3 separate regions of the Homo sapiens genome follow, and all the other regions are linked to region 1. The links come from fine-mapping of genetic effects on gene expression. A gene starts in region 1. Each other region holds a variant in brackets. All regions are shown on one strand. Distances are between the middles of the regions. Region 1 holds the start of EBPL (EBP like). Region 2 overlaps KPNA3 (karyopherin subunit alpha 3). Region 3 has its middle 65 kb from the start of KPNA3.

Region 1 (10,149 bases):
TCACCTTCTCCTCCTCAGAGGTTTACATTCCTAAGATAAGGTCTCTCCAGAGAGAAGTATGGACAGGCCACCACCAGCTCACAATAAGATGGACGCGTAGTTCTGGAGTTCCTTTCTTGTAACGCATCCCACTGCATGTACAGGCAGTAACATCTGGCCTTCATTATGTTGTCCTGTGGGGTTTGGGCCTTGGGGAATCAAACTGGACTACCTTGTTAACTTCTAAGTTGGGTAAAATCTCGGACGCTAGAGTTTCTGACTTAACACATCACCACTAAATTATCTTTATGAAGATCTGCTTTGGCCACGTGACTTCCCTGCTTGAAATCCTTCAGTGGCTTCTCACTACAGAATACAATTCTTACCTGTCACCTTTCCAGCTGGTCCTCCCACTTCTTATGTAAACCCTGTGCTCCTGTCAATCTGGACTACAGGATGTGTTCCATACACAGGCATTCATATCTTGCCTCATGTTTCTGGCCATGCCTGAATGCTATACATAGATTGCAGAAGAGATAAAATTTTATCCATGAAGCACCAGTGCCTAGGCTGCCCACAGCGACCTCAGAATGGTGACCCCACCATTTCCTTCTTCTAGTATGTTGCCATGGCTCCTTCCAGGTAGGCTGATGGGAAGTCAGCCTGCCCTCTGCTGTAGTCATAACGAGCTGAACTGATGACCAGTGCTGGGGCCCAAGGTGACTGCACTCTGGTTGGACATCTGGGAAATGAACTGCCCCTGGGAATGCTTGGCTTGAAACTGTCCAACAGGATAGCTTTCAATTTGATGGCAGCCAAAAAACCTACAGAGCTCCTCTCTTTAAGAAGTGTCAGGGGGTGGCCAGGCGCAGTGGCTCACGCCTGTAATCCCAGCACTTTGGAAGGCCGAGGCAGGTAGATCACGAGGTCAGGAGATCGAGACCATCCTGGCTAATATGGTGAAACCCCGTCTCTACAAAAAATACAAAAAATTAGCCGGGCGTGGTGGCGGGTGCCTGTAGTCCCAGCTACTCAGGAGGCTGAGGCAGGAGAATGGCGTGAACCCGAGAGGCGGAGCTTGCAGCGAGCCGAGATTGCGCCACTGCACTCCAGTCTGGGTAATAGAGCGAGACTCCGTCTCAAAAAAAAAAAAAAAAAAAAAGAAGTGTCGGGTTAAGGAGAGGCAACTCATCTTCTAGTGAACAAGTGAGTTTTAATTTTGGTTCTCCCCTAAGCTCTACATCTTAGTCTTAGCTTGTCCCACACTTCTGGGTATTCTTGCAATAAACTCCCAAGCAAAGACAACATGGGCATGTATTTTCTTGCAGCCTCAACTGCTTAATTCAAGTGCTCTCCCCACTGATCTCTGAGACACATGTACAAAGACGTTGGTAGATGCATTGTTTGTAATGACAGAAAAATGTGTCCACTAATATGGGCTGGTTAAGTGATCGTATTCATCAAATATAAGATACATCCCAATTTAGAGACATTAAAATATCAATCAAATGGCCTACAGTAGTTACATGATGTAGTTGATTCTTCTAATATGTGAAAAAATGTGGGTCTTAGACTTGGAGAACTAAGGTATGGTGTATTCACACAGTGGACTACTTTGCAGCTGGGGTAGGTAATGGCACAAAAGGAGGTGTGTGTCGTGTTACCTGTAACAACCTGAGCTTGAAAAGTAAACAGTCTTAAACCAAGTGGTGAACACACGCATATAGTTTAAGTATTTTTACAGCTTTTTGTTTGTCTAAGGTATGTTAAACATTTTTCTTTTTTTTCCCAAGATAGAGTCTTGCTCTGTTGCCCAGGCTGGAGTGCAGTGGCTTGATCATGGCTCACTACAACCTCCACCTTCCAGGTTCAAGCAATTCTCCTGCCTCAGCCACCCGGGTAGCTGAGATTATGGGCACCGTCACCACACCTGGCTAATTTTTGTATATTTAGTACAGACGGGGTTTCACCATGTTGGCCAGGCTGGTCTTGAACTCCTGACCTCGTGATCCACCCGCCTCAGCCTCCCAAAATGCTGGGATTACAGGCATGAGCCACTGTGTCCGATATGTTATACATTTTTATATATATACATTCTGATATGCTATATACAGTTATACCCAGCCAATATGTTACACAGTTTTCTCTCACTGGGCCTAGCAACATTTTTGTTATGTTATACATTTTGTTATACATTTTTTCTAACCGGGCCTAGCAATCTGCTTTATCTCCCTTGTTCTGTGGGAAACCTTGTGTTCAAGTGATAGCTTAAAAATCAATTCTCGGCTGGTGGCGGTGGCGGTGGCTCACGCCTGTCATCCCAGCACTTTGGGAGGCCAAGGTGGGCAGATCATCTGATGTTAGGGGTTTGAGACCAGTCTGGCCAACATAGTGAAACCTCATCTCTACTAAAAACACAAAAATTAGCTGGGCGTGGTGACGGGCGCCCGTAATCCCAGCTACTCGGGAGGCTGAGGCAGGAGAATAGCTTTAACCCAAGGGGCGGAGGTTGCAGTGAGCCGAGATAGTGCCACTACACTCCAGCCTGGGCAACAGTGTTAGACTCTGTCTCAAGAACAACAACAAAAAAAAAGACAAAAAAAAAAAAAAAGAATTCTATAAATAAAGGAGTTGAGAGAAACATTCACTGTCCCTTATCTCTACATGTTGATTATCAGAATAAAAAGAATTCCAGCAACATCAGTCATGGGCACAAAGCCAACCCGTAAACATTTACAGAACTCGATGATTACCCAAAACTCGGCTTGCTTTCTCAATACTACTGACTTTGGCTTCACATTAGCCACAGGTGTGTCTAGAGTTAAACAAGGTCAACTTTACAAAAAAAAAAAAAAACAAACTGATACTTGGGCATAGTTTAAAAAAAACTTAAAAGTGTGTGTGTGTGTGTGCGTGCGCGTGTGTGGTGGGGGGCGGGGCATTTCAATATAAATGCCTTAAACACAACCTTCCTGGCTATTTTATAAAATGGGTTGAATCTCTAAGGACACATATTTCCTAAGACCTCGACTGATACACAGAGTGCAAACTTGGGAGCCAGACTAGACTGCCTCAGAATCATGCCAGCTGTGTGGCACTGGAAAGTCACCTAATTTTGCAGCGCCTACCTTCACCTCTGTAAAATGGGGAACAATAATAACTAATTTATGGATGCTGTAAAGATCTGAAATTTTAAACTCAGTAATGCGCCTGGCACACATTAGACACGGGTGTTTCGTTTGTCTTGGCAAAGGCTTCGGGTTTTGCGACAATAGCCTTGCTGCCTCCGGAGCAAGCATCTCTCCTTGCCCCCTCTGGGGCATTTAAAAATGACCTCAATTCTACTCTCAATTATGTCCAGTTCAACAGTTACGTGCAGGTTACAAAGCCGAGGAAGCTGAGGTATCTTCTAAACTAACATAGCACGTACAGAATTTTTTTAAAGTTTGGTGGAGGAATCGGCAGCACAAGGTAAGCTGCGCTCTGTTCACAGACCTGGGAATCAGAACTCCGGCCGCCGCGGCCTCCAGGCGCCTCTCAGCTAACAGACTTCCTGCAGCAGGGGGAGGGGCGGCCAGCTCGCTGCAAAAAGCCGCAGGACCCCCTCACCCCGCCTTGCCGCCCCCGCTCCCACTCTCTGGGATGGGGAGTGCAGGGTCTAGGCGATGGCACTTACCAGCGCGAAGTGCACCAGCGCGTCGTAGCAGAGCCAGATGAGCGCCCCGCGGTCCGCCGCCCCCTGCCCGCGGCCCAGGCGCAGGCCCAGGGCGCAGCCCGCCGCCAGCAGCGCGGCGCACAGCAGCAGCGAACCGCCAGCCTCGGCCCCCAGCTCCCACTCAGCGCCCATGCTTCAGGCTTCCGACGCCAACGGCCCAGGACCATGCGGCAGAGGAAAGCAGGGAGAGAAACGACGGGGCGGGGCTGGCCGGGAAGGGGCGGAGCCGGATGGCCAAGGAGGAGCGGAGCTGATTGGCCAAGGCGGTCCGGGGAGGGACGGGGCTCCCCGGCCGGGTCGGGGCCAGAGCGAGGATTCCGTGCCCGCCTCGCACCCTGGCCAGCCTGCTGAGTCCGGTGGTTTTGCCAGGTGCCGCCCATGGAGGTTCCGTAGAAGGAACGTGCTCACCAACTTGCGCAACCGCCTCGACCAAACCTGTTCCCAAACCGAGCCCAAAGGATTGGTAATAGGGCCACACCTTTTGATGTTGTTTCGCTTTTAACAAGGCTCAAACTTTAAGCCACAAAGTGAAGCCTAGGTAGTGGAAATTTTGCCAGTAGACCGGGGCAGAATTTTAGGGGCAAAAGGTTTTAATTAGGCTGCAGCAAGCCTTACCAGGGAGGCTGGGGGCCAAGGGAGTTTTCAGCCACCAGCCGGCTTAAAGCCTTTATGGCCTACTCTGACAATCTTTCCATTTCTTAAAAATCCAGAAAAGTAGAAGGGTGGGTGAGAGGAGCGGTAAGTCCTATTGGCTTGGCGATAGATGCGTTTAACCTGTGGCAGGCCAGGTTTCACTATCGCAGGCCTCCATCACAACTGCTTCAGCACTGAGTGGTTAAATTAAATATTAAAAGCTGAGGCCGGGCGCGGTGGCTCACGCCTGTAATCCCAGCACTTTTTGCCAAGGCGGGCGGATCACGAGGTCAGGAAATCGAGACCATCCTGGCTAACACGGCGAAACCACGTCTCTACTAAAAATACAAAAAATTAGCCGGGCGTGGTGACGGGCGCCTGTAGTCCCAGCTACTCCGGAGGCTGAGGCAGGAGAATGGCGTGAACCCGGGAGGCGGAGCTTGCAGTGAGCCGAGATCGCGCCACTGCACTCCAGCCTGGGCAACAGAGCGAGACTCCGTCTCAAAAAACAAAAAAAAAATTAAAAGCTGAAAGAGTCAGTGCCCATATACCAAAGTCTGGAATGTAACAAAAGCCCACCAAGAGTTTTGCCTAGGCCTTTCTTGGGCCTTGAAGCATGACAAGATAACTAAGGAATTTTTAACAGGACCCGTTTAGGATTAAACAAGTTTTATTGGGGGTCTGAAGAAACTCCCCAGGCCTCCAAAAACAAGTTTATTGGGAGTCTGGAGGAATTCCACAAGCCTCCATGATTTAGCAAGAGACAAAATAAGGGTAATCATCCCAGCACCCAGACCTATTTAGATTAAGTAAATTTACTGAGGCTCCAGAGGAAGGTCTTCAGGATTAGAAGTTGTTAATCACTTACGTCTTTAGATGAATGCACTCTTACACGTAGACATATAGCTTAGAAGGTATATACGCTCTGGAAAAACTTTGTAATTATGAGTTGGTCTGGCAATAATTTCCAGACCTTCTCCCTGTAACCGGTTGCAGAAATAAAAACTCTTCTTCCCCAGTTCATCTGCACCTCATTATTGGGCTGCCCAACCCCCAGTTTGGTCCGGGAACAAACCTACATTATTTAACATCACAACAACCCTATGAGGTCGGTGAAATAAGCCAGTCACAAAAACATACTTATGATTCCACTTACAGGAAATATCTAAAATAATCAATTTGCAGAAACAAAATAGAATGATGGTTACCAGGGGTGGGGCGGGGCGGGAGTGGGGGGGGGGCGCGGGGAAAAGTGGAGTGTTATTTATTCGGATAGTTTGATTTGCAAGATGATGTTCTGGAGATTGGTTGCACAACAACGTGAACATACTTTACTGAGCTGCACACTTAAAAATGGTTAAGATGGCAAATTTTATGTGTATTTTACAGTTATTAAAAAAAATGCTGGCACTGAACACAAGAAATTTTTCCCTTAGTCACTTCCTATACCATTTTTTATAGCAGTTAACACCAGATAGAATGATCCTTGTTTACACACTTATTGCTAATCTCCTGCCACTATAATGTAAGTCTTCAAGGCCAGGGGTTGTGGCTAGCTTTTTTATTGCTGTATCCCTGGCACCTATTACAGAGTTTGGCATATATTAGCTGCTCAGTTAAATAACTGGCGACTGAGTATGGTCAATCTAGCCACCTATGCTCTGGATCCTGTCCTGTAACTAACTTATCATCCTTTAGGGACCACTCGGCCCACCTCCCCTTCAGAGCAAAATAGAAACTTAATGAAAAAACTGATCAGATCCCCTGTCTTCATGTCTTGACCCTGCTCCTCAGTCCTTTCTACTCTGGTTTCTGCCTTATCACACTGATATAGCTCTCACTAAGGTGACTACTGGCCTCCACATCACTGAACCCCAAGAACAGTTCATTTTCTTAGTGTAGTTTACTTCTCAGCAGCATCCCAGCACTGAAATATTTTTCCTTTGGTTTTCTGAGAATACAGCCTCCTTAGCCATTCTGTTTCCTTTGCAAGTGCATCTTCCACTACAAATGCCTAGTGAATGCTGCAGCTCCACAACCCAGTCCTCGGCCCTGTTCTCACTCCAGACCCCAAATCCAGGCAGTCTCATCCTTACCCTCTGCTTTAATGACCAGCAAAACCTGCAGAGAACTCAAATCTCTAGCCTGGTCCTATTCTCTGGACTCCAGACCAGTATTTCCAACTGCCCTACTTGACAGTCACTTGGATGTCTCAATATAACCCAAACTGAGCTCATCACTTTCCACCCCAATGTCTGATTCTCCTTCCTATCTCATGTTACTTCCACTCATCAGTTACTACAACCCGGAAACCTAGAAATCATCCCCGATACTTCTCTCTCCCCAAACTTGGCATCTAAGGCATCACCAACTCCTCCTCAGCAGCCAAGTATTTCTTGATTCCATGCATTTCATGGACCTGTTCACCATCTCGTCTGTGCTTCACTCACTAATGTGACCAGCGACCTCTACATCACTAAATCCAAAGGACGTTTTCTGTCCTTAGCCTTACCAACTAGTGATCTTTATTAATCTATTATCCCTCTTGCTTAATGATGATCTTCATATAGAATACCAAAATCCTTTTTATGACTTACTAGACTGTGGGGTCTGGCCCCTCCCTATCTCTTTAGCCCTTTCCCATTCCCCTATTAATCCTCCTCTCCATTATAATCTTTCATCTAGCTATACTTGCTTTCTTTCACTTCCTCAAATACCCCATGGTGCTTCCCACAAGGCTTTGTACAGACTCTTCCCACTGCTGGAAAGCTTTTCCAGTCAATGTGCCCAATAAACTCCTGCCTTTTCACCACGATCAGTGAAATTTTGGCTGGCACTTTTTAAGGGCTCAACATTAGCCTGGTTATCACCTTTCTCAGTAGCCAATTTCCTCTAGTATGTGTATCATTGTATACCTCTTTTTTTCTAACATTTGTCAAAACTTGTCTTTTTTTTTATTCCTGTTATTTTTACAAGTATCCTGTGCCATAGCACAGTACCTGGCACGGGACAGAGTATTCAGTATTCGAATGTTTCTAAAGGCTTAGTCAGAATTCTTATTTATATAAGACTGAAGACATCGAAAGGATACATATGTAGAATGTGATCTCATGAGAAAAACTAGGCTGAAGTAAATATGAAATTTATTCTTATGTTTAGAGTTGAAAAGGGTAGATGCCCAACGATTTGGGTTAAAGAGAGCTGATGATAAAGAGGGTGTGACTTGATCACAAACCTAATTATGATGAAGCTGGTAAAATAACTGAAAGACTCCCCCCACATTAATAGAATCAAAAGTCCAGATAATGGAATGTTCCCATTCATTCCAAAGTACTCAGAAACCAGTCACACCACACTCCTTATTGTTGGAATCCTTGGAGTACATCACGCTGACAGGAACCAGGTCCAGCAATGACTTTATAATGAGAATGGATGAAATGCAAGGGGTGTTCGAGTAAAAGAAAGCTGATTTAAAAAATGGATGAGTCTCCTCTGCTATCTGGAAATAACAAAGTCTACTCCCAATCAAAAACAGTTAATTTACAATGATGGAAATTTAAGTTTCTTTCTCTTTTGAGACAGGGTCTCAACTCTGTGGCCCAGGCTGAAGTGCAGTGGCACGATCTCGGGTCCAGTGTATGGCAGCCTCAGCCTCCAAAGTAGCTGGGACTACAGGCATGTACCGCCAGGCCCAGCTATTTTATTTATTTATTTTTTTTGTAGAGATGAGGTCTCACTATATTGCCCAGGCTGGTGTCAAACTCCTGGGCTCAAGTGATCCACTGACCTGGGCCTCCCAAAGTGCTGGCATTACAGGTGTGGGCCACTGCACCCAGGTTAAGAAAGGATCTTGTAGCAAGCAAAGCTAGCCAATAAATACAAGCTCCCTCAAAATGAGTACCTTGTTTCTCAAGCTCTTCTAACTTACTCCTGCAGGAATGTTTCCATAAAATACCCTGCCTCAAAAATCAGATTTTATGTTTAAAATATGTAAAATGTATACTTTATAACACTTTGGCTTGTATTACCAATAAAACTTTTACTTACCACCTAGTAAAGTTGCTGTCCCACGAAAGTGTTCCTTATCTTATGGTTTCTCACACTATTTGGCACAAGGCCCCATGCATCTTTGGGTACCACAGTTTAAGGGAATTCCTCAAGAAGGTGTATGGCAATTTGCTAGGGTAGGGAAGGGGGATGCTGTAGAAGAAATTCCCTGCAGAGAATACTTTCTTTATGGCATGGCTCGGCCATAGTTTCTGTTTTTAATAATTTAATAGATGATTGTAAGTTTTCTGATGAGGCCAATCTCTCAACAATGCTTCAAGTGATCTTCAAACTATGCTATGATTTTCTAGTACAACTCCAGTTTTCCCTAGATAACTTAAAGATTTTCAACTACAAGTGTTTGAAAAACACTGCCATAGGGTGTTGAGATTTGGGCAATTAACACATTTGATTGTTTTACAACCCTGTTTTTTAGCCACAGGATAAATTTAAGAGGTAACTAGTTGCTCCATATTTCTATTTCTTTATCCCAAGTCCCTTGAAATAGATGTTCAGTACTACCTGGAGTTTCCTACAGATGATTTGGGAAATTAGGTTAGGCCTGCCTTCAATTTTTCCTAAAACTCAGAATGAAGAAAAGGCACATTTGTGTCTCCTTTCTTCATCTTATGCATCTGAGGAAAGCCTGGGACTGTTCATACAACAAAAAAGTCATGATTTAGGCTGTCTCATTTGAGTGGAGTTTTCTATAGGAATTGATTTAGGACAGTGGTTTACAATCAGGGATGGTTTTGGGCCCCCAGATGTTTGGCAATGTCTGGAGACATTTTTGGTTGTCTTAACTTGGGGAGAGGAGAGAGGTGCTACTGCTATCTAGTGAGTAGAGCCCAGGGATACTACTAAACATCCTACATTGCACAGGGCAGATGACACACAACAAAGAATTATCCAGCCAAAAATGTCAATAGTGCAGGGTTTAAAAAACCCCAATTTAGGCCAGGCGCTGTGGCTCCCGCCTGTAATCCTAGCATTTTGGGAGGCCGAGGCAGGCGGATCACTTGAGGTCAAGAGTTTGAGACCAGCCTGGCCAACATAGTGAAACTTGTCTCTACTAAAAATACAAAAATTAGGTGTGGTGGCAGGCGCCTGTAATCCTAGCTACTCGGGAGGCTGAGGCAGGAAAATCGCTTGAAACTGGAAGGCAGAGGTTGCAGTGGGTCATGCCACTGCACTCCAACCTGGGCTAAAGAGCGAAACTCCATCTCAAAAAACAAAAAAACAATTTAGGCCTAAGTTAGTTGAGGGATTTTATGGGCAAACAGTGGCATTAGGTTGCATTCCCACATCCCTTTTCCCACACATTGTATATAGCACTTTTGGAGAATCATTCTATCACTGTTTTTTAGCTATCTAAACAACATTTATACTCACAGCTTCATATACAGAAATTATATTTCCTTTCCCCCAAAAAGAGTTAAGTAAACTTTCCCAGTTTAACTAGGGTTTAAAAAATTAACCATCACTGTAAGACAACGGACATTCATGAATGTCAGGTGCTCTTGTTTACTTGTTTATCCGCATTAACTAATCCCCTGAAAAGGATGAATGACGCTTCTTAAAAAATTTTCTTTTCATATAAAAATAGAATTTTTTTAAAGATGGGGTCTTGCTATGTTGCCCAGGCTGCTCCCAAACTCCTGGGCTCAAGTGATCCTCCTGACTCAGCCTCCCAAGTAGCTGGAGCTACAGGTGTCTGCCACCAACCACGCCCTTCAGGATGACCCTTCTGAAAGAAATGATGGCAAGATTGTATG
Region 2 (10,149 bases), 30 kb after region 1:
AATTCCTTCAACTCGGGAGGCGGAGGTTGCAGTGAGCCTAGATCGCGCCACTGCACTCCAGCCTGGGTGACAGAGCAAGACTCCATCTCGGAAAAAAAAGAAAAAAAAAAAAAAAAGAATCAAAGACTCTGCAAATTAACTCCTTAGCGAACGTATTAGGTTATTATCTACATGTATTCTCTTAAACCTCCATGTATTCTTGAGTTCTTAATATCTTCCCCCGTGTTCTTGAAATGACTTTCTCTCAACCTGTGAAAATCCTATTCATCCTAGTTATATGACATGAGACAAATTACTTAAGTACCTCTGCTTCTTTTACAACGTTTGTAGATGATGGAGATAATGAGAGTACCAATCTCACAAGAATTTTGTAAGAATTAAATGGGTTAACATAGCAAAAGTGCTTAAAACAGTGCCTGGCAGATTTTAAACTCAATAAATGGTAACTATGAACACTATAATCTTTGACTCTGTCCCCACTTCTGTCTCCTTATAATGCTCGTCTCAAATGTTACTTTGTCAACGAAGCTTTCTGCTTCGCTAGCAAAATTATCTGTGCTTCCATAATAAAGCACTTTGGTCACTGCTCTATCTTACCTTTTTTCTTGTTGGCTTTCATACCATGTTTTATGTTTATGTGCTTATGGTATGATTTTTTTTTTCACTGTGAGCCTATGGATTATACTGAATATGTGATCATGGTATGAAAAAGCACAGGCCTTGGACCTGGCTTCAGTTCTCAGGTATGGCTCTCATTCATTGCATGACCTTAGAAAGATTATTTAACTTTACCGAGTTTCAATCTCTGTATTTGTAAAATAGAAGAATAAAACTTATCTTACAAGGATACTGGTAAGATAAAAGGAGTCTACAGAGAGATCCAGCACAGCAATTTCTTGACATAAGTTCTTTCCTTTTAACTCTTTTTACATCTTTAATGTTAAGGTCTTAGAAGGCATGGTCTCTTTATGTCTTATCACTGAGTGTACAATTCATGGCACAATTCTGGCTTTAAGTGGAATAATTTGTGAGTGTTTGCTAAACTTGACTAATATACCTGTAACTACAGTACACTGCCACTTTAATACCCCAGCTTTCACATAAACACAACCAACAGATGGTGAAAGCTTTTATTTGCCTATAATTAATTCTATAATGTTCTGGGGGAAAGTCCTGAGGCAAACAGCAGATATTTTGCTTATTCCCCTTTTAATCTTTGCTGTCAGAAAGCTTACAACTAAACTTACCTTTCAACAGCAACAACTAAACTTCTGTATAAATTTTACTTTTTCCTTTACAGATATTATCTTATATGTCTTTTGTTAAGTCACTTTATATCCATTTTGGAAATAAGACGGCATATAAACATGTTTTACTTCATTTTAATGACATTTTAGGCTGTGTCAAACACGAAGTGACTTTAGCTACCTTTAAAAGATTCCATCCTGAGAGCTTAAAATCTGCAAATGAGCTAGAGTAATGTGATACAATTTTTATATACAAATTATATTGCCTTGTGAGAAAGGTAAGCAAAGATGTATTTCTTTGTCCCAATGATAAATTACACACAATTCACAATTCTGCCACACATATACACATATGTATGTACATGTTATGTGTATGTAGATAAAGATTACAAAAACACAAATATACAACAAATCAGAAAGAGATGTTAGTTAGAATAAAAGAAACTGGATCAACACTAGTCACCGAAATTTATCCACTGTTTTACTCCATGGAAAAGTAACAATTTACCTTACTGCATTTAGGAGAATTTTCAGATTGCCTAGATAGTATCAAACTTGCCAGAACGTTGACAGTAAATGCTTCACTAAATCTGAATATAATGAAAAAAAATCACCTAAAAATGCCTTGCATTTAAAACTATATATTCTTCTATACTATATCTAAAAAGACTGTAGCATAAAAAGGCAGCATGGTTTTGTGACAAGTACCCAAGACCTGTTATGAGAAGACTTTAATTTGAATATTGACTCTGACCCTTACTAGCTCTTCCACTTTAGATAAGTCATTTAATCTCTCTCTGAGAGTCCGTTTCTTCTTATTCTATAAAATGGGGGGAATAATATCTAGCCTATCTGTTGTAAGAACCAGTGAGATTTTTTTTAAAAAGTAAGGTGTTTCATGAGGTTTTACCGCTTTACAAATATTAAGGTTTAAAAACACTACTTAATAATGACAGAAATAAACTACATATGCAGTAATTTCTCAAAAGTGAGCATTTTTGCTGTCTGGCTGTTACTGCTTACAGATTTAAGCTATAAACCTAATTTAAGCTTAATCCTATTTCTGAAAACTGTAAATACGTTGTAGAAACTTGACAAGTTGATAAAATGTATGCTGACACTTACATAAAAACCCTTTCTGTCCCATCAAGAGCAAAATCCCACATTTAAGCTGCTTCTTAACTTACGTTTATATCTGTATGGTATATGAGGACACATAAAGCTGGCAAAATCTGAGGAAAGAAAATAAACAATACTTAACATTAGTTAATTAATATGTCTGTAAAAATGAACAACTTTGACATAAAAAGCGGTAAATATGGTTTGTAGGGCGAGAAAGACAATGTTAAATTTGTCTGAATATCTTTTAGGAAAATGAAAACCTGATAAATTCAATCTAAAAAAACCAAAAACATATCTCAAATGTTAAACTGAAATATGTTCAATTAACAAGTTAAAATATCCAAATAAATCTGGCAGAAGTTAATGTACCTTAAAATAAAAACATTTGTTTTTAATAACCTTCTTTATGGCATAAAATGTCAAGTGGAAAAAATGGAGATGCAAATATACAGTTACAGCTATTTAAGAAAAGCTACACTTAAAACTGCCGTAATTGTCTCACTTACCTGCTTAACGTAAAAATACGATTTTACTTAATAAGCTACTTAAGTCAAATTAAAGTTTTCAACTTCACCTTTAGTCAAGAAAATTCGAACCAGTACAAAGTACAAAGCTTTGCTTGTTAAATTCAGGCCCCAGAGATCTCTTTTTAAAATATGGGAGAAAGGGAGCAGGGGGTTGTAGGAAATCACACAAAATACCTTTGCATAGCAACAAAAAGTAGCAGGTACTAGAGAAAGATGTCCATTATAAAGATACACAGTTGGCCAAGTGTGGTGGCTCATGCTTGTAATCCCACCACTTTGGGAGGGTGAGGTGGGTGGACTGCTTGATGCCAGGAGTTCAAGACCAGCTGGCCAACATGGTGAAAACCCATTTCTACTAAAAATACAAAAATTAGCCTGGCATGGTGGCACATGCCTGAGACATGAGAATCGCTTGAACCCCGGATGTGGAGGCTGCAGTGGGCAAAGATTGTGCCACTGCACTCCAGCCTGGGAAACAGAGCGAGACTGTCTCAAAAAAAAAAAAAAAAAAAAGAGATAACACAGTCAACAGTGAATAAAGGTTATGTAGGATTTTTTTTTAAAATGCAAAGCACAAGGATCTATTTACATATCAAATGTAAATAAAAAAGTTTTTACTTTGTTTTAATTAGTAGATTTAACAAAAAATATGTCACACTTTTAAGAACTCCAATTTTGTCAGTAATAAATTGGAGTTAGGCCGTGGGGGCAGTGGCTCACACCTGTAATCCCAGCACTTTGGGATACTGAGGTGAGCAGATCACTTCAGGTCAGGAGTTTGAGACCAGCCTGGCCTACACAGTGAAACCCCATCTCTACTAAAAATACAAAAACTAGCCGGGTGTGGTGGCGCTGGCCTGTAATCCCAGCTACTCAGGAGGCTGAGGCACGAGACTCGCTTGAACCCAGGAGGCAGAGGCTGCAGTGAGCTGAGATCATGCCACTGCACTCCAGCCTGGGCAATAGAACAAGACTGTCTCAAAAGAAGAAGAAGAAGAAAAAAAATCAATTGGACTTAAAGCAAACTCATTCAAGAACATTTGCATGTAAGTATACTAGTTTTGCCTGTAGCAACCCCCTTTTATAGCTTTAAACCAACAATGCAATACAGTAATAAAACTTTGAGATTGTTTTCCTTTTGTATTTTTCTCTCTGAATTTTTATATTTTCTTTTTATGCAGATAATCAAAAAAATAGGCATTAGGATGAACTGACATTCTTTCAGGTACAGTAAGACACTCAACTTTTATTTCATAGGAGTAATTAAATATGGTACGTTACTTTTAAAATCTTACACCTGTGGCTGGGCGTGGTGGCTCAGGCCTGTCATCCCAGCACTTTGGGAGGCCGAGGCGGGCAGATCACGAGGTCAGGAGGTCGAGACCATCCTGGCTAACATGGTGAAACCCCGTCTGTACTAAAAATACAAAAAAATTAGCCAGGCGTGGTGGCGGGTGCCTGTAGTCCCAGCTACTCAGGAGGCTGAGGCAGGAGAATGGCGTGAACCCAGGAAGTGGAGCTTGCCGTGAGCCAAGATCGCGCCACTGCACTCCAGCCTGGGCGACAGAGCAAGACTCCGTTATCAAACAAACAAACAAACAAAAAACTCACACCTGCAATGAAATCAGTATATGTATTATTTTGTCCCCTGTATATGAATTCCTGAAGTACAAACATAGGGAAAATATACCATCTGGCCTTTACAATTCTTCATTTACCTCCTGAACTGTCTCCATAGGCGGCGGGGGATCCTTATTCCTGCAGAGATTGACAATGACCCATGTGACGTTCCGAAGGAAGGTGATGGGGATGGAGGGACTGATGAAGGACAGAAGAGGTTTGACAACTCCCAGTGATATGACATAATCTCTACATTGAGGACCATCACCTACAGAAATGAAAATTATATTTAAAAAAAACTTACATTCAGGATGAGAAAGTCTGAAATGTATGCAATGGCTCATGTGGGAACACTGACGTTCTATGTTTCCTCACCATTAGTCAAAGGCATCAAGTGTTGTTTCTCCAGATTTTGATCTGGGGAACGTAAATTTAACCTACCAATGCTAACAGCAAACTGTATATCCTTTTCAAAGAGCATCATCTTAAGTCAGTACTTATGAGGCAAGAAGAGAGTCAACACACATTAAATTCAGAGGAAACATAGTATGTAATGGCTATGCCAATGTAGGAAAAAAGTTAATTTAGATTCTTAAGAGGATTCCTTTCAAACCACTTACCTATAATGTTTCCCAAAGCCCATACTGCTTGTTCACAAACATTCTGATGTGGTGAACGAAGAAGTCTCAGAAAAAGAGGTACTGCATCTGTAATAAAGAAAAACTAATATTTATACTAGCAACATGTTGAAGAGTTTACAGATTTCAGATCAAAGAAATTGATCAAATACACAGCCTGGCATATTGTAGCTGGAAGAACAAATGTGGCAAATATCTTTACCCTAAAAAGAATCAATTTCAGTATTTTCCCCTAGTAATAGTCAAGTACCGTAACCAACTGGCAGTATCTAAAGGTTGCTATCATACCATTAACTAAAAGAAAGCAACAGCATGAAATCCTTCCTATAATCCAT[T/TA]AAAAAAAAAAAAAAAAAAAAAAGAGTTCCTACCCCAAACATGTAACCTTAAAATGTAATGCTTTAGTCTACAAAATCTCAATTCCTGATACGGGGATTAACCAAAGAACTGATTAATCTCATATCAGGTCTATCTTATACTTTAAAATAATTTCTCATAATCCTTACTCTTTACAGAATGTATACATTATACCCATTTCCAGCATAAGCTAGATCACTTTTTAAAAATTTCAATCAACTGTGCACTACCTCATTTTTTTTTTTTTGCTGTATCTGTGTATTACTTGTATTATTTACTTAAAATTTAAATTAATTCAGTTTTAACAACTTTACGGAGATATAATTACAATAAATTTACATTTAAGTGTGTAATTCAATGACATTTCATATTTATACAGAGTTGTGAGGACATCGCCACAATCTAATTTTATAACATTTCCAGGACCTCAAAAGAAATCTTGGCTGGGTATGATGGCTCATGCCTGTAATCCTAACACTCTGGGAGGCCGAGGCAGATGGATCACCAGGTCAGGAGTTCAAGACCAGCCTGGCCAAGATGGTGAAACCCTGTCTCTACTAAAAATATAAAAATTAGCCGGGCGTGGTGGTGGGCGCCTGTAATCCCAGCTACTTTGGAGGCTGAGGCAGAGAACTGCTTGAACCAGGGAGACGGAGGTTGCAGTGAGCCAAGATCGTGCCACTGCACTCCAGCCTGGGTGACAGAGCAAGACTCTGTCTCAAAAAAAAAAAATATCATACTCAGCCGGGCACAGTGGCTCACACCTATAATCTCAGCACTTTGGGAAGCGAGGCGGGCAGATCACGAGGTCAAGAGGTTGAGACCATCCTGGCCAACATAGTGAAACCCCGTCTCTACTAAAAATACAAAAATTAGCTGGACATGGTGGTGTGTGCCTGTAGTCCCAGCTACTTGGGAGGGTGAGGCAGGAGAATTGCTTGAACCCAGGAGACGGAAGTTGCAGTGAGCTGAGATCACGCCACTGCACTCCAGCCTGGCGACAGAGCGAGACTCCGTCTTAAAAAAAAAAAAAAAAGAAAAGAAAAAAGAAAAAAGAAATCTCATACTTAAGGCAGTCATTCCACATTTGTTCCTCTGCCACACATTCCCCAAGCGGCAGGCAACCATTAAATATCTGCTTTCTGTCTTTACAGATTTGCCTATTCTGGACATTTCATACAAATGAAATCATACTGTGTTTTTTGGGGGGTCTGACTTCACTTAACATTCTTCAGGTTCATCCATGTGGTAACAGGTATTGGTACTTCATTCTTTTTTACTGCTGAATTGTATTCCATTGTATACACCACATTCACTTTATCCACTCCTCGGTTAATGAACATTTGGGTTAGTTATGAATAACATTGCTGTGAATATTTATGTACAAGTGTTTGTATGAATATGTTTTCATATCTCTTGGTTTCACCTAGGAGTAGAACTGCTGGGTCACATGATAACTTTTTTTTTTTTTTTGAGGTGGAGTCTCGCTTTGTCACCCAGGCTGGAGTGCAGCGGCACGATCTCGGCTCACTGCAAGCTCCGCCTCCCGGGTTCACGCCATTCTCCCGCCTCAGCCTCCCAAGCAGCTGGGACTACAGGCGCCCGCCACCATGCCCGGCTAATTTTGTTTTTGTATTTTTAGTAGAGACAGGGTTTCACCATGTTAGCAAGGATGGTCTTGATCTCCTGACCTCGTGATCCACCCGCCTCGGCCTCCCAAAGTGCTGGGATTACAGGCTTGAGCCACTGCACCCAGCCTTTGTTTTTGAGATAGGGTCTCACTCTGTCGCCGGGGCTGGAATGCAGTGTGCAGTCTCGGCTCACTGCAACCTCTGCCTCCCTGGCTCAAGCGATCCTCTCGCCTCTGTCTCCTGAGTAGGTGCGACTATAGGCATGCGCCACCATGCAATGCTAATTTTTAAATATTTTGTAGAGACACGATTTTGTCATGTCACCTAGGCTGTTCTTGAACTCCTGAACTCAAGTGATCTGCTTGCCTTAGCCTCCCAAAGTGCTGGGATTAGAGGCATGAGCCACCTGTGGGTCTGGTGAGAATAGTATTCTCAATACATGATTCAATGTAACTTACTGCCATATCACATGCTACTTAAAATCACCTTGATTACCACACCTAAAATTAGCTAAGTGTCCCATACTATAATAACGTACGTGGTGATATCTAGTACTTTTCTAAAGAGCTTGTGTCAGTGTCATTTAACAATAATTATTAGCCCATCTTGAGGAAAGTAAAATTTAAAATATGTCATAAGCTAAAAGGCAGAAGCCATTCAGCATCTTGAAGATATCAGAAACGGAATTTAAAATCCTGTTATCACAGCATGATGTCTACTCCAAAAGATAAAACTCTACTCTTCTTTTAATAACCACAATTAAAAATTTTTCATGATAAATTAATGACGGCTATGAAAAAGATATCGGTCATCAAAAGTAACTTATAAAAGTCATCATTTAAAAAATGTTACAAGATAAAATTTCTTTATTACAAAACTCTACTTCCTTGCCATCATTAAAACACAAAAAGTTCAGACAGTAAGGAATTTACTTACTAGACTGCACAACAGCTTGAGTCTGTGCAGAAGTTCCTGATGCTATGTTAGTTAATGCCCAAGCAGCTTCAAACTGTAATGAAGGACTGTAAAAAAACAATAACACATCTTTTTAGACACATAACTACCACTTAAATTAATGAATCTTAAGACTGATAAGATATGGCTATTCTTTGCCTTGTCCTTGAATTTCACCTTGTTATAATCCAATTGCCTGCTAGCCAACCCTACTTTTTTTTTTTTTTTGAGATGGAGTCTCCCTCCATCACCCAGGCGGGAGTGCAGTGGCGCCATCTTGACTCATTGCAATCTCTGCCTCTGGGGTTCAAGTGATTCTCGTCTCCACCTCCCAAGTAGCTGGGATTACAGGTGCACATCACCACACCTGGCTCATTTTTGTACTTTTAGTAGAGATAGGGTTTCACTATGTTGGCCAGGCTGGTCCTGAACCCCTGACTTCAGGTGATCTGCCCACCTCGGCTTCCCAAAGTGCTGGGATTATAGGCATGAGCCACTGCACCCAGCAGCCATCTCTACTTAAAAAATCTCTTTGGCTCCCAAAGCCAGTCACTATGAACCTGCTTCTTTATGTCCACTGGTATTACAACATTTAGCCAGTCATTATTTCCCTTGACTTCGACTTCCTCTCCACAGACACATCTAATCAATATATCATGTCGATTTTACCTCTTAAACATTTCTTACATTTATATAATCACCCCTAATATCAAGTGCTAGTTGAGGCCCTCATCATCTCACTTTAACCACTATCACACGCTCTAGGCTGGTCTTAAAGCTAGAACCCCATCTGTCTCCATTACACCATCTGCTTTACATACTAGGGATATTACAAGGCTGTATAATTTTGTTGAAAAAACAAGATCATTATATTTTCGAATAGTAATGGAAGACCTCACAAAGAAAGTGACAACTGAACTAGCTTTTCAAAGATGGATTTAAAAAGAAAGGCAGTGACAGTGGGAAATAAAACAGGTATCATGCATGGAAGGATCATGATGTGTAGGAACGACAAGGATTAGATCAAGAGAGCTGAAACTAACTAAGAAGCAAGTAACAGGGTGTTTGTGCATGTGTGTGTGTGTTTCAGGATGGGAGTGAGGAGTGTATTCTACAGATATGCTAAGGATGGGGCATTGAAAAAGGGAGGAAAGAAAATAATGTTCAAATCAATGGTATGCAGAATGGCTAAAAAAGGTTAAAGGCTGATATAGGAGAGACCTATTAAAAGACATGTTGGGGCTTACACCTGTAGTCCCAGCACTTTGGGAGGCTGAGGCAGGCAGATCGCTTGAGCCAAAAAGTTCGAAACCAGCCTGGGCAACACGGTGAGACCCCATTTTTACAAAAAATAAAAAAATCAGCCAGATGTGGTGGTACACACCTGTAGTCCCAGCTACTTGGGATGCTGGGCGGGGGTGGGATGGGGGGATTGCTTGAGCCTAGGAGTTTGAGGATTCAATGAGCTGTGATTGTGTCACTGCACTCCAGCCTGGGTGACAGAGTGAAACCCTGTCACAAAAAAGACATAAAGGAAAGACCTGTTAAAAGGAAATGATAGATATTAAGTTAGGATAGCTGAAAGAGTACAAATTCCCTTAAGTGGAATACCAAGGATTGGGGGGATTTAGTCAGCAAAAATTAAGATTAGACAAAGGTTAGGGAGTTTGAAGAAAAGCCTATAAACAGGGAAGAGAGCAAGCAAGGTTGTTAGTATCAAAAGGTTAAAGAAGTCCGGGCAAGGTGGTTCACACCTGTAACCCCAGCACTTTGGGAGGCCAAGGCAGATGGATCACCTGAGGTCGGGAGTTTGAAACCAGCCTGGCCAACATGGCAAAACCCCCTCTCTACTAAAAATACAAAAATTAGCTGGACATGATGGTGCGTGCCTATAATCCCAGCTGCTCGGGAGGCTGAGGCAGGAGAATCCCTTGAACCCAGGAGGCGGAGGTTGTGGTGAGCTGAGATTGCACCACTGCACTCCAGCCTGGGCGACAGAGAGAGATTCCATCTCAAAAAAAAAAAAAAAAGAAAGAAAAAAGAGAAAAAAGGTTGA
Region 3 (10,149 bases), 170 kb after region 1:
ATTGACTAGAATGGTCTTGATCTCTTGACTTCGTGATCCTCCCACCTCGGCCTCCCAAAGTGCTGGGATTACAGGTGTGAGCCACTGCGCCTGGCCTATTTATTTTTTTGAGATAAGAGTCTCGCTCTGTTGCCCAGGCTGGAGCCTGGTGGTGCAATCTCCACTCACTGCAACCTCCACCTCCTGAGTTCAAGCAATTCTCCTGGATTAGCCTCCCAAGTAAATGGGACCACAGGTGTGTGCCACCAGGCCCGACTAATTTTTGTAATTTTAGTAGAGATGGGGTTTCACCATGTTGGCCAGGCTGGTCTCGAACTCCTGACCTCAGGTGATCCACCTGCCTTGGCCTCCCAAAATGCTGGGATTACAGGCGTGAGCCACCATGCCCTGCCCATCCTCTATTTTTATATCCAGTTGGCCATTCAAAGATAAGGGCATGATAAAAAAAAATATTATCAGGCACAGAAGTTCTCAGAAGATTTACCACACAAAGGCTATGCTGAAAACTATTTTAGATGAAAGGCTTAAATAAAGGGAGAGTAAATCTAGTAGATACTGCCAGAGATATGTAAAGTAAAGATGACCAAGTACACCGGTAAAATTTCTTTGACTTAAAAGAATAGCCAAGACTAAAGAAAAAGAGAACTCATAGACACAATAATCTGGCATCAAAGTGTAGATAATAACATGATGTGGATTGGGGGCACAGAGATGAAGAGATGAGTGTATAAAGTTTTGTTCTTATGGGGGAAGAGATAGTTACCAATTTAAAGAAATGGTTAATAATATATATAGAAAAAGTGAGTCAGACTGAAAAAAAATAAAGTGGTAGAAACAGGTCCGAATAAATAATTACAATAAATATAAATGAACTAAACTCATCAGTTAAAGACAAAGATGGAAAAATGTGATATAACAAAAATTCAGGTATGTGCTATTAACAAGAGATAAAACTAAAGCATAAGGAATTGCAAAGACTCTAAGTAAATGAATAAAAAAGATATCAGTAAAATACTAATCAAAATAAAGCTGGTTTATCTACAGCAATATTAGATAAAATGGACTTAAAGGCAAAAAGATACATAGCATGTATGCATTTAATAAAGCAAAAGGTGGCCCAGGGTGATGGCTCACCCCTGTCATCCCAGCACTCTGGGAGGTTGAGGCAGGTAGATCACTTGAGTTCAGGAGTTTGAGACCAGCCTGGGCAACATGGCGAGAACCCCATCTCTGAAAAAAAAAAAAAATGCAAAACTTAGCCAGGTGTAGTGGTGCATGCCTGTAGTCCCAGCTACTTGGAAGGCTAACATGAGAGGATCATCTGAGCCTGGGGAAGTTGCAGTGAGCCATGATCATGCCACTGCACTCCAGTTGGTGATAAAAGAAAAAGATTGATAAATGTTGCTTTGTTAGAGAAAGTAAAAAGTTATATATAGAAGATATTCAAAACACATAAAACTGGCAAAGGACTGGTATCATAAAGAACTTCTGCAAATCAGTAAAAGAAAAAACACATAAGCAGCCCAATAGGAAAATGGGCCAAAAAAAGAACTGTTTTCACAGAAGAGAAAACACATGATCAATAAACATATGAAGAGATGTTTAACATAATTAGTAATTGGGAAGTATAAATTGAGACTACAGTCCGGGTGTGGTGGCTCACACCTATAATCCCAGCACTTTGGGAGGCCTAGGTGGGCGGATCACGAGGTCAGGAGATTGAGACCATCCTGGCTAACATGGTGAAACCCCGATTCTACTAAAAATACAAAAAAATTAGCTGGGTGTGGTGGCACGCACCTGTAGTCCCAGCTACTCAGGAGGCTGAGGCAGGAGAATGGTGTGAACCCGGGAGGCGGAGCTTGCAGTGAGCTGAGGTGGCGCCACTGCACTCCAGCCTGGGCAACAGAGCGAGATTCCGTCTCAAAAAAAAAAAAAAAAAAAATTGAGGCTACAATGGCACACAATTTTATACTCATTCATCTGGTAAAAATTTGAATGGTCTGATAACACCAAATCTTATCAATGCTGGTGAGAATGTAAAATTGTATAACTACTTTGGAAAAGTTTGACATTTTCTCCTAAATTTGGGCATTCATATACTATTATGGGTTGAATTTTGTCCCCTAGAATAAAATGTTAAAATTCTAACTCCTGGAACCTTCAATGTGATCTTATTTGAACTTTGCAGATGTGAGTAGCTAGGTTATAATGATGTCATACTGGGCCCTAAATTCAATAGGACTGGCATCCTTATAAGAAAAGAAGAGGCCAGGCACGGGTCTCATGCCTGTAATCTTAGCACTTCGGGAGGCTGAGGTGGGTGGATCACCTGAGGTTAGGAGTTCAAGACCAGCCTGGCCAACATGGTGAAACCCCATCTCTACTAAAAATACAAAAATTTGCCAGGTGTGGTGGCGGACGCCTGTAATCCCAGCTACTTGGGAGGCTGAGGCAGGAGAATTGCTTGAAACTGGGAGGCGGAGGTTGCAGTGAGCTGAGATTGCACCATTGCACTCCAGCCTGGGGGACAAGAGTGAGACTTCATCTCAAAAAAAAAAAAAAGAAGAAGAGGAGAGACAGAGACAGAAACACACAGAGGAGAAGACCATGTAAAGACAGAGATAGAAATTGGAGTGATGCATCTACAAGCCACGGGGTGTCCAGGGATGCTGGCAACCATCAGAAGCCGAGAGAGACATGGGACAGATTTTCCCTCAGAGGCTCCCATAGGGAACCAGCCCTGAGGACACTTACTGTGAGATAACACATTTCTGTTTTTTTGAGGCACCCAGTTTATGGTAATTTGTTAGAGCAGCTCTATGAAACTAATACACATACTCAATGACCCAACAATTCTACTCCTAGGTATAGACCCAACATAAACCATTTCATGTGTACAAGTGACTGCATAAGGAAGTTCACAGGATTTCAGTTCACAACAGCAAAAACCTGCAAAGAACCTAAAAGCCTAACTATAAAAGACAGAATAAATAAATTGTAGTAAATCCACGCAATGGAATGTTATTCAGCAGTCAACATGAATGAACTATAGCAATGAGGGGGTCTATCTGCAGACCCTGACCCAAACGATGGATGAATGAAGTACACTGACACACAGATATTCTGCTATGCCAGTCCAGCTGAGTGTCTGGGCCACTTACAGACTCCAAGCAGAGTGCTGTAAACAGTCACGACCATGGCCCTGACCAACTAGTGAGACTCGCATTTATTTAGTAAAGATGAATTGACAAAGGCTTGAGTCAACACCACCAGAGGGTAATTGACATTGTGGACTTCCTGTAGAAAGTAATTAAGCACCGGTGGTAGATCAAAGGTTAGTCTTAAACAACCTAGCTAGATACACTACTCTGCCTTCTTCCTTACCCACTTGAAGCTTTTTACTCAAGGTAAGGATTAGGTTGCCTTCAGCCATTGTCTTATCCTGAGACTTCTGTAAAAACCTTCAGGCCTTCCAAGAAAGTTTGTGTTTATTTTTATAACTATCTTTAATATTTTTCCCACCAGCCTGATTGAACTCCCACATAACAACACACAAAAATATGAGGAATCTTAACAATATAATAATAATAAATGAATCTAAAGAGTTTACATATTCTGCAATGCATTTTTAATAAAATTTATGACCAAGATAATAGTTCCTTTTTATGAATGCAAATACGTGCAATTCAACTATATGAAATGGAAGGCAAGGAAATTGTTTTTTTATTTTTTTGCAAACACTATGGTGACTTAAAGGCAAGGAAATTGTTAACATGGAATTCAGCAATATGGCTACCTTGAGTAGACAAAGGCAGAGGGACACGATGGGAAAAGCAACCATATGGTTAGATGTAGGTTGTTGTCAAGGTCTTAGTTTTTGCTTGAGATGGTGGGTTCATGAGTATTTATCTATGTCTACAGCTATGTTTATATGTATATTAACATAACAATATTTAATGGAGGAGGCCACTTAAGGACCACAGAGGAAAGTATGCCATAAATAGGATTAGAACTAATTCTTTTTTTTTTTTGTCTTGAGACAGAGTTTCACTCTTGTTGCCCAGGCTGGAGTGCAATGCCGCGATCTTGGCTCACTGTAACCTCCGCCTCCTGGGTTCAAGTGATTCTCCTGCCTCAGCCTCCCAAGTAGCTATGATTACTGGTGCCTGCCACCACACCCAGCTAATTTTTGTATTTTTAGTAGAGATGGGGTTTCACTATGTTGGCCAGGCTGGTCTTGAACTCCTGACCTCAGGTGATCCACCCGCCTTGGCCTCTCAAAGTGCTGGGATTACAGGTGTGTGCCAACGCATCTGGTAGATTAGAACTAATTCTAATCCAATCCTGTGCATCTGGGGCTAAACATCCCCCAAATTGTTGGGCTTTCCCAGATTTGTCCATGATTCTACAAACTGGTGCTTCTGGCTAATTCTGATTTTCACAAGGGTCTGGAAATTGGAATATTTTTTCCACGCTAACTCTATGACCTGCAGTGTGGCTAACCAATCTAGACCAAACATGCAGCTCTGGATTGTTCAGGATTTAGTGTGCCAATTTAGATAGAAAGCTCAATTAATTAAAATAAAGAAGCACAGAGACCAAAAGTTCATTGAGTTCAAGTAGAATCAGCTCAATGGGTGGGAAAAAGAAAAAAGAATCAGTTCCTATAAAAAAGGACAGCATAGTTGCTAGAACCCTCTAGAGATGTACAGATATTAGATAGTTTTGGCAGGAAGTGGTGGCCAAAATACATGAAACAACAACCTGAAAAAATAAGAGTTAATCAGGGATTACAGCAGGGATGAAAACAAACAAGCCAAAAAGCCACAGCAACAACAAAAACAGGTGGAAGATAACAGGAAAATCTAATCTTCACTGCCCATGGGCTGGAATGTAATGTTTTGGCTATGTTTTTCTTCTTCTTTTTTTTTTTTTTTTTTTTGAGACGGAGTTTCGCTCTGTCACCCAGGCTGGAGTGCAGTGGCGCGATCTTGGCTCACTGCAAGCTCCGCCTCCTGGGTTCACGCCATTCTCCTGCCTCAGCCTCCCGAGTAGCTGGGACTACAGGCGTCCGCCAACACGCCCGGCTAGTTTTTTGTATTTTTAGTAGAAATGGGATTTCACCGTGTTATCCAGGATGGTCTCGATCTCCTGACCTCGTGATCTGCCCACCTCGGCCCCCCAAAGTGCTGGGATTACAGGCGTGAGCCACCGCGCCCGGCCTTGGCTATGTTTTTCTTGGTAAACATCTCTACTATCTGCTTTTGAAATGATGGAGCTACCTTTCAGTTTTAAAAACAATATATTTCAGGCATCTCAAGTAATCCACAATCTGGAGGCAAAAGTCAAGACTGAGTTGACAGAGCACAAATCTGTTTCATTTGACTACATTAAAGAGGTTTGCATTCTTTCAAGGGCTTACTAGCGAGTTGTTCAGAAGCAGTACTGACACGGGGGCCTGGGATTGTTGAGGGATGCTTATGCACAGAGAGGAAGGTTTGCTAATCCAGGAGCACTGAATCATCATGATGTAAACTTGCAGGACTTCATGGCTTCAGTGATACATCATTGATCTTTAATTCCAGTCCACAGAACTTTTTTTTATGGTAAGGAAAAGGATATGGGAAGAAAAAAGTATTATAAGCATGTTTCTCATATTTCTTCCCTCTTTTACCCTATAAATAAAAGAGCAAAGGTATTACTGAGCAAATGTTCTCTTGAAAAACTTGATTTCTTCTTATGCTTGGAAATTTTGCTATAGAGATAGTCATTGCTACTGTTTACAGTAGACA[T/C]TCCAACCCTGAAAACTAAACTCTGAAGTATTTACTATGCTTAGATAAATCACATATTTGTCCTCATGAGTACAGCCTGTTCAGGTTTGTACATACCATTGCGTAATTCCCTAAGAACTCTTTCCAATTTAAAAGGATGACTTTGGACACCTTTGTGGAAGTTGATAGGAAAGATTTTTGCTCTTTAAAATACTTGTTAAATAGGCCAGTTAAAAGTATGCTTTGTACTGAATTTTGCCTTTATCAGTAAAGGCTCCAAGAATGTTGATAAAATAAGAGAAAAAGAAATTGGGCTTTTCTCCTGCCAGAATTGGAAGGGAGAGACCCAAAACTAAGAACGGAAAATCTGTCATAATAATGGCAGAATCCTCAAAAGAAGATACACAAATAAATGCAGCTGAGGAACCTGGAGACTTCCCTGGTTTCTGTCCCTTGTGAGACTTCAAATCATAAAATACCCTAATATCTTTCTGTAATCTTCTGTCATGTTCTAAAATGTCTAAAATATTGAAACAGTCCTTATTATCAGAAAAAAGTAATCATGAACAGAGCCCAGAATATGGTATAAAACATTACCTTACTGTTCTCATCATGTCATTGTTCAGTCCTACCTCCAAACAATGTCCCATGAGAAAACCCAGAAGACATCTCCCTCACTAAAGCATTGAGAAATGCATTAATAAATGGAGCACCTGCAACCTCTTTCAAAGGAGAGCTCTGTGGTTGCTCTCTTCTATAGGGTAGGTGGAAAATATGCCATTGACATGGTCTCCCCAATTTCAATGATGGGATGATGGGATCTCAGAGTGGCATAGGTAGGGGTGGCACTGAATCTCCAAGGACAAAGTAAATGCATCCACTGTAAAGGGCAATCAGAATGCTTTGGCCTGCAGACATATTTGATGGTGGTTAAGTTATGGTGTTCTTAGGAATGAAATAGATGGGCAATCTACCATTGTATTGCTTGATCTGTAACAGAGGGAAAAATTCTAGGTCTGGTAGCTAAAAACCTGATGAGTCACTGCAGTGGACAGTCATGGCCTCTTGTGTTGAGATCTAAGTCAATTCACAGAGCCAAAGCTCCTTGATTAAAGAGGAGGCTGGGAGCCAGGCACAGTGGCCCATGCCATCCCAGTGAGTCAGGAGGCTGAAGCAAGAGGATTGATTGCTTGAAGCCAGGAGTTTGACCTCAGACCCTACGAAAAAATTAATCTAAAATGTCGGGGCGCGGTGGCCCATGCCTCTAATCCGAGCACTTTGGGAGGCACAGGTGGGCAGATCACAAGGTCAGGAGTTTAAGACCAGCCTGGCCAACATGGTGAAACCCTGTCTCTCTAAAAATACAAAAATTAGCTGGGGATGGTGGCATGTGCATGTAATCCCAGCCACTTGGGAGGCTGAGGCAGGATAATTGCTTGAACTGGGACCCGGGAGGCGGAGGTTGCAGTGAGCCAAGATTGCACCACTGCACTCCAGCCTGGGCTACAGAGGGAGACACCATCTCAAAAAAAAAAAAAAAAAAAAAAAATCTAAAATGGATCATAGATCTAAATGTAAACCTAGAATTATAAATCTACTAGAAAAAATATAGGACAAAATCTGTGGGACCCTGGCATAAGCAAAGTTTTCTTAAGTAGAACACAAAAGAAGATATAAAAGAAATAGATGGGGCTTGGCATGGTGGCTAACATGTGTAATCCCAGCACTTTGGGAGGCCAAGGTGGGCTGACCACCTGAGGTCAGGAATTCGAGACCAGCCTGGCCAACATGGTGAAACCCCATCTCTACTAAAAAAAAATTAGCCGGGCATGGTGGCACATGCCTGTAATTCCAGCTACTCAGGAGGCTGAGGCAGGAGAATTGCCTGAAGCTGGGAGGTGGAGGTTGCAGTGAGCCGAGATCACACCACTGAACTCCAGCCTGGGCCACAGAAGAAAATTCCATCTAAAAAAAAAAAAAAGAAAAAAAAGAAAAAGAAATAGGTAATCAGTTGGGCTTCATCAACATTTAAAACATTTCTCTTTGAAAGTCAGTTAAGAAAATGAAAGTCAGCTAGGTGTGGTGGCTTACGCCTATAATCCCAGCACTTTGGAAGGCCAAGGCAGGAGGATCACTTGAGCTCAGGATTTCGAGACCATCCTACGCAACAGAGCAAGACCCCACCTCTAGAAAAAATTTTAAAAATTAGCCAGGCAGGGTTGTGCGTGCCTATAGTCGTAGCTATTTGGAAGGCTGAGGTGGGAGGATCACTTGAGCAAAATCAAAACTGATTTTCATTAAATCTCAAAGTAATCTGTTGACTGAAAGAAACCAAACAAAGATATATATTGTATTATTTCACTTATATGAAATTCTTGAAAATAAAAACTAACTTATGTAGCTAGACTGCAGATCAGTGGTTGCCTGGGGACAGGTTAAAAAGTGCAATGAACTGCAGACAGGTATGAGAAAACCTTCAATGGCAATGGAAATGTTCAGCATCTTGTTTGTGGAGATGGTTTCATAGTTACATATGTTTACCAAAACTTATCAAATAGTGAACTTCAAATATATGCAGTTTATTATTCAAAATTATACTTCAATAAAGTTGTGAAAATGGGAGCGGGGAAGCAACAAATACTGGTGTGAGTCAACAGCATGAACCATATCACCTTTTCTCATTTTCCAGAAGTATGCTGAGTTCCTTGGTCAGCCAAAATAACCACCCTCTCGCCCATATGAGAGGATCTTCCTTGTCCATTTTCCCCCATAGTACCTGTCATTTTTTTTTTTTCTGCTGCTATAACAAAGGACCACAGATTGGGTCACTCATAAAGAAAAGAAGTTTAGGCCAGGCACAGTGGCTCACACCTGTAATCCCAGCACTCTGGGAGGCCGAGGAAGGATTGCTTGAGCCCAGAAGTTCAAGACCAGCCTGGGCAACATGATGAGACCCTGTCTCTACAAAAAATACAAAAATTAGCTGGGCATGGTGGTGTGTGCCCATAGTCTCAGCTACTTGGGAGGCTGAGGAGGGAGGATTGCTTGAGCCAGGGAGGTTGAGGCTGCAGTGAGCTGTGATTGTGCCACTGTACCCCAACCTGGGCAACAAAGCAAGACCCCATCTGAAAGAGAAAGAGAGAGAGAGGGGATAAAAAAGAGAAAGAAAGAAAAGAAAAGAAAAGAAAAGAAAAGCTTACTTGGTGTTGCGGGAAGTCAGGGACCCTGAATGGAGAGACTGACTGGAGCTACGGCAGAGGAACATAAATTGTGGAGATTTCTTCTTAATATGGACATTTATCAGTTCCCAAATAATACTATTATAATTTCTTATGTCTGTCTTTAATCTCTTTAAACTTTAATCTCTTAATCCTGTTATCTTGCTCACTGCAAGCTCTGCCTCCTGGGTTCACGCCATTCTCCTGCCTCAGCCTCCCGAGTAGCTGGGACTACAGGTGCTTGCCACCATGCCCAGCTAATTTTTTTCTTTTTGTATTTTTAGTAGAGACGGGGTTTCACTGTGTTAGCCAGGATGGTCTTGATCTCCCGGCCTCATGATCCACCTGCCTCGGCCTTCTGAAGTGCTGGGATTATAGGCATGAGCCACAGCGCCCGGCCTGATCAGAACATTTTTTAATGAAAGGATCTAGAAAGCAACTTGGAAGTGTAAATAGTCACCTTCATTTTCTCTAACTTGATCAAGACTAGTGGGTCCATGGCCCTGTGTTAGTTCATGCATTCATCTCAGACCCAAATGAAAGTTTCAACTCCCAAAATGCAGTTCCTTAGATGCTCGTCTGGACGTGATGACGTGCCCGCCATATAAGAAGGTGCAATCATAGGTATCACAGGTAGCCAGATAGAAGACATTTTTTTCTCCCAAAATTATTCCTTGGAGTGGGGAGTGATATGGGGGAAGAGCTCCCATCTTAAGGGGCACACACTGAGTTGCTTATGCTACTTCCTTGTTCAAAATGAAGTAACTGCCTTAATCTAAAAAAAGAAAAGAATATTTACAACACTGAAAATGAATGAACTACGATTTATGTATAGCATGGATGAATTTCATAAACATTGGACAAAAGAATCCAGACACAAAATAGTGGTTGCCTTTGGGCAATATAGAAGGGTGCAAGTGGAAGTAGCCTCAAGAAGTTTTCTGGGGTGCTGGTAAGGTTCTATTTTCTAAACTATGTGGTGATTAAATATGTGTATTCACTGTGTGGTAATTAATCAAACTGTTTACTTTTTTTTTTTTTGAGACTGAGTCTCGCTCTATCGCCAGGCTGGAGTGCAGTGGCTTGATGTGGGCTCACTGCAACCTCTGCCTCCTGGGTTCAAGTGATTCTCCTGCCTCAGCCTCCTGAGTAGCTGG

The links. PIP is the estimated chance that this variant, and not a neighbour inherited with it, causes the effect.
Region 2: its variant is fine-mapped to the expression of EBPL in monocytes (BLUEPRINT, PIP 0.95).
Region 3: its variant is fine-mapped to the expression of EBPL in fibroblasts (GTEx, PIP above 0.99).

The regions. Positions count from the first base shown.
Region 1 is chr13:49,687,599-49,697,747 of GRCh38, forward strand. It overlaps EBPL (EBP like), which reads right to left and starts at 3,888. Exons shown (of 4, transcript NM_032565.5): 1 at 3,656-3,888. The coding sequence starts at 3,826. RefSeq lists an enhancer at 3,183-4,180 and silencers at 3,644-3,783, 3,814-4,013.
Region 2 is chr13:49,717,341-49,727,489 of GRCh38, forward strand. It overlaps KPNA3 (karyopherin subunit alpha 3), which reads right to left. Exons shown (of 17, transcript NM_002267.4): 7 at 8,076-8,161; 8 at 5,137-5,223; 9 at 4,615-4,784; 10 at 2,435-2,479. Among named protein-coding and RNA genes, the nearest start is that of EBPL, 31 kb to the left of the region's middle. RefSeq lists an enhancer at 7,199-7,699. The variant T/TA (reference allele first, on the strand shown) is at 5,490.
Region 3 is chr13:49,852,869-49,863,017 of GRCh38, forward strand. No RefSeq gene overlaps it. Among named protein-coding and RNA genes, the nearest start is that of KPNA3, 65 kb to the left of the region's middle. The variant T/C (reference allele first, on the strand shown) is at 5,796.